Homo sapiens: one gene and its partner. The protein of the gene in region 2 purifies or fractionates together with the protein of the main gene of each other region. This does not show direct contact. Each region holds a gene or a part of one and is shown on either strand. Other genes may lie near its edges. The genes, in order: TMEM245 and RTP4.

Region 1 (4,028 bases), on a different chromosome or scaffold from region 2:
CATCTGGCCTGGTTGTCCATTTCTTGAGTCTCTTTCAATCTGGTATACCATGTCCCGCATAGAATTAGATTTTTTAAATTTATTTTTGGCTTTTCAAGACATTAACAATTCTCACCCAATATAGGTCTTTTTTTTTTTTTTTTTTTTATATGCTGTTGCCCAGGCTAGAGTCCAGTGGCACAATCTGGGCTCACTGCAGCCTCCGCCTCCTGGGTTCAAGCAATTCTTCTGCCTCAGCCTCCCAAACAGCTGGGTTCACAGGCGGGTGCCACCACACCTGGCTGATTTTTGTATTTTTAGTAGAGATGGGGTTTCGCCATGTTGGCCAGGCTGGGCTCGAACTCCTGACCTCAGGTGATCCACCTGCCTTGTTCTCCCAAAGTGCTGGGATTATAGGCGTGAGCCACTGCTCCCGGCCCCAATATAGGTTTTAAATTTTCTTGGTATATGAAACCCAAAACTCTGCCAACGATTTGTATTTACTTAGTGTCTTCTGCAACCTTTATCACAGCATTGGTACTCAAATACCTTTATCCTGACAAGTCTGGATGAAGCTACTTATCAAATACAGAGACAGGACAGTTCAATGTATAAATACAGCTTATGATTATTCTGCTTTAACTCACCGCTGAGGCTGAGCAGGCCATGGGGTCTGGTTTGGCGTGGGAACTGAATTCGTGGGACTCACTAGCATGGCACTATAGATATTGGAAGCAACCACAAGTATGCAGAGAAGAATAGGACCGATGATTGCTCCTTCCAGGCCTAGGTAGTATGCTCCACCGGCCACTGCCAAGCCTGTCAGGTAAGGATGGCCACCTCTGGAATAAAGAGCACGACCTTTAACACACAAAAACTGGAAAAAATCTGAAATACATTTCTAATACAATGTGCATTCTTTAATACACTATGCTTTTTAGCATATTATCAGCTTTCTTTAGATCACCTCGATGCATACAACTGAACACTGACTGCAATAATATTGAGATGCAACAATATTGAGATGCAACAATTGTTTTTCCTATGGATGACATCTGCCTCTTTTTATAGCTCCAGGAATGAAAGAATAAAGCCAGCAATGTTAACAGATATTTTATACCCATTACAGGTGCCTGCCTATGATGGGTTAATGTTGGCTTGGGACTGGTTAGGAGTCACCTGTTAAGTTAACCTCCATCAAGGATAATTAAGTGAGCACAATTTAGCATGTAATTCAGTTAATTATGCTTTTATATGACGACAGCAACAATGAGAGCATCCCTGTTACTCATAGGTCAGACTTTTGGCAACCTCCTAAAATATAGTTTTTAACATAGGTGATGATAAAAGGCCTCCTGAGGAAAATATCTGTCACAAAGCCCAAGATTTCTATTTCACAGGAGAATCACAAATGCCCTCCAGCTTATTACAGTATCACTTATGTAAGCGGAATGAAATAAAACAGAACACAGTAGCATAGCACATTGATAATGACAAGAAAGGACCACTGACATCAGAAGGACTGGGAAATAAGTCACATTCTGTTTGTTTCTAGTTTTAAACATAGATGAGAAGAACAATTCAGTGAGGGGCAAATAACTAAATATCCTGGAAGGATGTTCTATATTACAGCTAAATCAAAGTAAGACTTGTGGAGAACCAGTCTTCAGGAAACCAATAAATTATATTCATAATGTGTTTGTCTTTCTCATTCCAAAAAAATGATTTAGGGCAGTATTCCATGTTTGCTAAGTAAACTTCTTCCCTAAACAACACATTCAAGGAAAACTATCAAAAATGCTTAAAGCTTTTTATTCCGCTCCATCACCCAGGCTGGAATGCAGTGCCGCAATCACAGCTTACTGCAGTCTTGACCTCCCAGACTCAAGTGATCTTCCTACCTCAGCCTCCTGAGTAGCTGGGACTACAGGCATGTGCCACCACACCAAACTAATCTTTATATTTTTGTGGAGAACGGGTTTCACCATGTTTCCCCGGCTGGTCTTGAGCTCCTGGGCTCAAGTGATCCACCCACCTCGGCCTCTCAAAGTGGTAGGATTACAGGCTTGAGCCACTATGCTCAGCCTTAAAGCTTTTTTTAAAAAAAATAAAAACGTGTGGGAGTTTATGAATAAAAGCTTAACCTATTAAAAAATAAAACAATTTATGCCAAACCTTTCATTTCCCAATAACAACGTTTAAAGACAGTATTTTAGGCCGGGCATCGTGGCTCATGCCTGTAATCCCAGCAGTTTGGGAGGCCAAGGCAGGCGGATCACTTGAGGTCAGGAGTTCAAGATCAGCCTGATCAACATGGTGAAATCCCATCTCTAGTAAAAATACAAAAATTAGCCGGGTGTGGTGGTGCACGCCTGTAATCCCAGCTACTCAGGAGGCTGAGGCAGGAGAATGGCTTGAACCTGGGAGGCGAAGGTTGCAGTGAGGCGAGATTGCACCACTGCACTCCAGCCTGGGTGATAGAGGGAGACTCTGTCTCAAAAAAAAAAAAAAAAAAAAAAAAAGACAGTGTTTCTTTAATTCCAGCTGTAAACCTTAATATAAAATTTACAGCAAAGTTTAAAGAAATAAAAGCACTTAAGTATTAATCATACTTATTCCTGCTCAAATGTCAACTGTGACACACTAGTTAACCACACTATGATGTTCAGCTTTTTAATTTTCTCTCTCAAGTTTTAATGTGACTGAGAACTGGCTTGATATACTTAATGCAATTTCTAAAAGAGATGTCAAAACCTATAAAAACAGACATTTATTTATTGTATTATATGGCTAAAGTGTTGATTCTGACTTAGATTTAACCTGTATTTATCATAGAACCATTCCAATTATATCTTTAGAGAGCTCTGCTTGCCAGAAATTAACTTGCTGAGATTTGGTTTCACATGGATATCCTCAGACATACAATCTAACAACATTTTCTCCAAAACCAAAGAAGAGATAAAAATAATCATTAACTGTTCACTGTACTTAAAATATTTGATGTACATCTGGTCATAATTCTTTTCTAGGTTAAATGTCACTAAATCAAGAGAAAATTATTCACAATTTGGTTTTAACCCAGGACATCATATATATTATAAATATTACATATGTAATAAGAAAATATTGGCTGGGCATGGTGGTTCATTCCCGTAATCCTAGTGCCTTGGGAAGTTCAAGGCAGGAGGACTGCTTGAGCCTAGGAGTTCAAGGTTCAAGGCTGCCATGAGCCATGACTGCACCCTGCACTCTAGCAGTCTGAGTGAAAGAGATATTGTCTCAAAAAAAAAAAAAAAAAAAAGTTGCTCTGGAACTCTGGGGCAACAACAACCAAAAAAAAAAAAAAAAACCCCAAAATATCATGCCTTGTAAACAATACTATTTTCAATGAAAATTTCATTTGTGGGAACACAAAAGGCTATTTCACTGAAAATTCCTACTACCAGTTCTTTTGTATACCCCCAGGAGAAAAAAATCCTCCTTTAAAAAAAAAAAAACGGAAATGCCTGGATGATTCACTAATAAGAAATTCTGTGGCTTACTTACCCTGATATGTCAGAGTAGATTGCAGTATCTACAAAGTATGTTGGCAAGAGATGAAAAATCAACAGTAAAATGGCCTTGCATCCTAACCCTTGTGTCAGCCACAGGTCAAGAACTGCAGGTACTGCTGCCCAGTATGTCCCCAGGAATGGCACTGCTCCAAGGATTGCTGCTAATGCTGAAAAAAGAGTAAAAGAAAAACAACTTAACATCATCAGCAAAACACTAACAAAGCAAAAGAATCTAAGCAGTAGCTCCTCCTCAACAACTTCCAACAAAACAAGTTAAATACTCACAAACTCAAATATTAGGGAAATGATATGCCCTATCTAACTGAATTTTCTAGCTAAGTAAAGGCTCAATATCTTAAAATGTGATACTAAAAATCTTTCTAAGTGTGTGTCTTATTTATGGATCTCTTCTTAAGCAATAAAATTCAAGGGTTCTGTAGTTGCTACTATCAATCAATAGTTAATATACGGTCCTATAAATACACCTACAGAACA
Region 2 (4,151 bases):
CCCAGTCTTTAGGTGGGGGAGTAGGGATTTGGACGGCTTTGTCATGCAGCTTTTTAAGCCCTGTCCACAGATGCCCAAAGTGCATGCCTCACAATTGGCTGTGTCATGGGATCCTTCCAGGGACACTTCCAGGATTACTGGCATTTCTGGAGACTTCCTCGTGCCATTTCCATAGTATTTCTTCAGTATATGCTGCACCAGGTTGCTCAGAATCCTCATGGTGCTATCCGAGGAGAACTCAGGCATCTCATATTGGGACCAGGAGCACTTCTGGCACCTTTGGCCAAAGAGCCTCATACGCACCTGACCCTGGGATGTCCAGTGCTCCCAGTACGTGTGGCACAGAATCTGCACTTGGGCGGAAGCCCAACTTCGCTGGCAGGAGGAACACCGGAACCTGCAGTCAGAAGGAAGACACCCATTATGCCTTCATCTGGTTGTTAACCTGAGGGAAAATGGTCTTGGCCCCTGTCACTAACATCCTTTTCCATTTGAAAAAATGCATGTGATTTAGATTGTCCCAGTCATTGATAAACAGGAACAAGAAGGACTATGTTTCAGATAAGGCTTTTTCCTGTGACCTACTGAGTATCCACCCATATGTTACACCCAAGTCTACCTCTTTGCTAGTAAAACATCTCCAGATGCCTCTGAGGGAAAATCATGTCTGCCATCTTCCAGAGAAACTTATTCCTAATTTTGGTCATAGAAAGCTTTGGTAAAGTATCTATTTTGATGCATACAATATAATTGGTCTTTATAATTTTATCCCATTTCATCTGTGAAGTAAGCACTATTAAACCCAATATCCAGATAAGGAAACTGAATCATGAAAAGGATACGCAACCTGCTTAAGGACACACAGGGTAAATGTTAGAGGCATGCTGCTAATCTCAGGCCATCTGAAATTCAACTCATTTACCTGCTGTAACACGTTGCCTCTGGTGAGTAGTGTAGCTAATCTCTCACACCTGGAGAAACAGACTGCATCCCTCATACCTGGGTTGAAGATCCAGTTTACATCAGGAAGACCTTGGGCAAAGCCCTTCCCTTCTATAACCCTCATTGTTTGAATCCATAAAAAAAAAATTCAAGGGTTATATTGGCAGCATCAAAAGAGACGATGTATGTGAAAACACTTTGTAAACTACAAAATGCTTTTCAAAAGCTGATTGATATTTTCCAAAAGTACACTGGTAGGTTGCTTTTCCGATCTCGAAATGACAATCAAATCAAATCATCCCAACAGGAGAAACACCTTCTTTCTGTTTGGAGGAGTGCCAAAACGTTGTAAGACATCATGAGTCCCTCAAAAAGCTCTGGCTGGTGTGGACAGAAATATTTACACATTTCCCTGGATTAGAAAGCAGAGCAACATGACTGCTATACGGGCTCTGACAAGTGACTTGAGAACTGTTCTGGAGACGTTTAGGAGGCTTTATTTAAACAACAGATTCTGCAGCTAAAAATAAGCATATACTGTATTTGATACAATATATAATAATACATATATTATTTATAAATTTATTATTCTGAAATACATAGTACATATGTATATATAATTATATATCATTTATGTATACATATACATATATATTTTATCTTATCCCATTATCTTATGGGAATGTATACGAAGGAATACTTACTCTGCCTAGGAGAACCAGAGAATGCTTTTAGGAGGAGGAGGCACTAGAGTGGGCCTTGAAGGATGAGCAGGGAGGGGTGAGGGGAGGGTCTGCTGAACAAGCAGAACTCCATGAACAAGAGTGTGGAAGTCTGAAGATGCATGGCATAGCTAATAGTCCATAAGGAATGGAGTAGGCCATACCTGAGGCAGGATGGGGCAGGCAGGCAAGCTGAGTAATAGGTCAGATGAAAACTATACCGAAGGTCCTGTGTGTCATTTAAAAATAAATTTGATTATCCAGGTCAGCAATTCTCACCCTCCTAACATGGTCAAGGAAACTGGTTCCTGCAACCTGGAGGCTTGCTGGGGGTTAAAGAGGGAAGTGGTGAGTAAGGGAGGAGTATTACTTGGTGACTCCATGAACTGGGTTTTAGATTTAGTTTTTGCAACATCATTCTATACTATTATCCCCAGGCCTTCAGTAAAGCAATGTTCAGAGTAACTGCTTGATCTTAGCCAATTCTTAAGATATTTAAAAAAAAAAAAAAGGCTCCGTCCCAGGCTTGTACTGAACAGTGCCAAGGCTTGGAGAGCTGGTGCAGCTGGGGGAAGCTGGTCAGGACTGCTGGGGAGACTGCAAAAGACTCTAGAGGTAGTCTGGAACAAATGACGTGGTGAGAAACTAGAAGGGAAAATTTATGGAATAGGGAGCCTTCTCCAGGGTTTTCCAGAAATATTTACGGAGGGAAACCTAGTAAAAGAAGAAACTTCCAGCAGTTAAACAAAATGGAGGTTTGGAGTCGTCTTATCATGTCGACCCTAAAGAGTACTATGACCACAATAGGATGGAGGCCCTGGTGACATTTACTCCTTCAACAAGCTCTCAGAGGAATAAATCATGCTAAGCTGAGCCTGAGCCTCTCTTCTCAGAAGAGCTATTGCCTGGGAAACCCACACTCACCAGCCAAATGCTCTCTGTTGGTATTGCTTCCACCCTTGAGCCAGGCAGTCTAGCTGAAGGTTGCCATCCAACTTCAGCGTCCATGTGGCCCGGGGTTTTGCCTCTTGGATTAGTTCTTGAAATGTCTGCTCCCAAGTCCAGAAATCTACAACCATTTTTTCCCTCTGAAGCTGAGAGAGTAGCTTTCAGGTTTGCTCGTTTCTCAGGAAGAGACAAACAGTTTCAGTTTCGGTGTTCGGTTCAGTTTCTGTTTCTGTGTATGGACATGAGCTGTTTTTTTCAACCTTCATTTTAGACTGTCTGAGTACACAGAACAAGTCTTTGTTCTGAAAACAGACAGCAGCAAAACTGTGTTAGTTAATAGGCCTTGCTGAGAGAGAGATAAAGAGCTCTGTTCTAGATTCTGGGGTCACATATAAATTCGCTTTTATTTTCTCTCTCTCATTTTTTATAATAGGCAAAGTGAGAGGTGACAGCATGCTGGTAGCCCTCGCAGCCCTCGCTCGCTCTCGGAGCCTCCTCGGCCTCGGTGCCCACTCTGGCCGCGCTGGAGGAGCCCTTCAGCCAGCCACTGCACTGTGGGAGCCCCTTCCTGGGTAGGCCAAAGCCAGAACCGGCTCCCTCAGCCTGCTGGGAGATGTGGAGGGAGAGGCACGGGCAGGAACCGGGGCTGCATGCAGGGCTTGCAGGCCAGCTAGAGTTCTGGGTGGGCGTGGGCTTGGCGGGCCCTGCACTCGGAGCGGCCGGCAGGCCCCCAGCCCTGGGCAGTGAAGTGCTTAGCACCTGGGCCAGCAGCTGCGGAGGGTGCGCCAGGTCCCCCAGCAGTGCCGGCCCACCGGCACTGAGCTCGATTTCTCGCTGGGCCTTAGCTGCCTCTCTGTGGGGCAGGGCTCGGGACCTGCAGCCCGCCATGCCTGAGTCTCCCCACCCTGGGCTCCTGCATGGCCCAAGCCTCCCCGACGAGTGCCACCCCCTGCTCCATGGTGCCTGGTCCCATCGACCGCCCAAGGGCAGAGAAGTGCGGGCACACACGCAGGACTGGCAGGCAGCTCCACCTGCTGCCCCCGGGGCGGGATCCACTGGGTGAAGCCAGCTGGGCTCCTGAGTCTAGTGGGGACTTGGAGAACCTTTATGTCTAGCTAAGGGATTGTGAATACACCAATGGGCACTCTGTATCTAGCTCAAGGTTTGTAAATGCACCAATCAGCACCCTGTGTCTAGCTCAGGGTTTGTGGATGCACCAATCAGCACCCTGTCAAAACGGACCAATCAGCTCTCTGTAAAACAGACCAATTGGCTCTCTGTAAAATGGACCAATCTGCAGGATGTGGGTGGGGCCAGATAAGAGAATAAAAGCAGGCTGCCCCAGCCAGCACTGACAACCGGCTCGGGTCCCCTTCCACGTGGTGGAAGATTTGTTCTTTTGGTTTTTGCAATGAATCTTGCTGCTGCGCAGTGTTTGGGTCTGCTCTGCCTTTATCAGCTGTTAACACTCACCCGGAAGGTCTGCAGCTTCACTCTTGAGCCAGCAAGACAATAAACCCACCAGAAGGAAGAAACTCA

What was found.
Region 1: the proteins of RTP4 (region 2) and TMEM245 purify together in Homo sapiens (affinity purification with mass spectrometry; one large-scale study listed by BioGRID and IntAct). This does not show direct contact.

The regions. Positions count from the first base shown.
Region 1 is NC_000009.12:109,032,681-109,036,708, forward strand, and holds part of TMEM245 (transmembrane protein 245), read right to left. Parts: intron 3,701-4,028; coding exon 3,526-3,700; intron 822-3,525; coding exon 627-821; intron 1-626.
Region 2 is NC_000003.12:187,367,034-187,371,184, reverse strand, and holds the start of RTP4 (receptor-transporting protein 4), read right to left. Parts: upstream 2,801-4,151; 5' UTR 2,744-2,800; coding exon 2,589-2,743; intron 398-2,588; coding exon 1-397. UniProt on the Homo sapiens protein: Chaperone protein that facilitates the trafficking and functional cell surface expression of some G-protein coupled receptors (GPCRs). Promotes functional expression of the bitter taste receptor TAS2R16.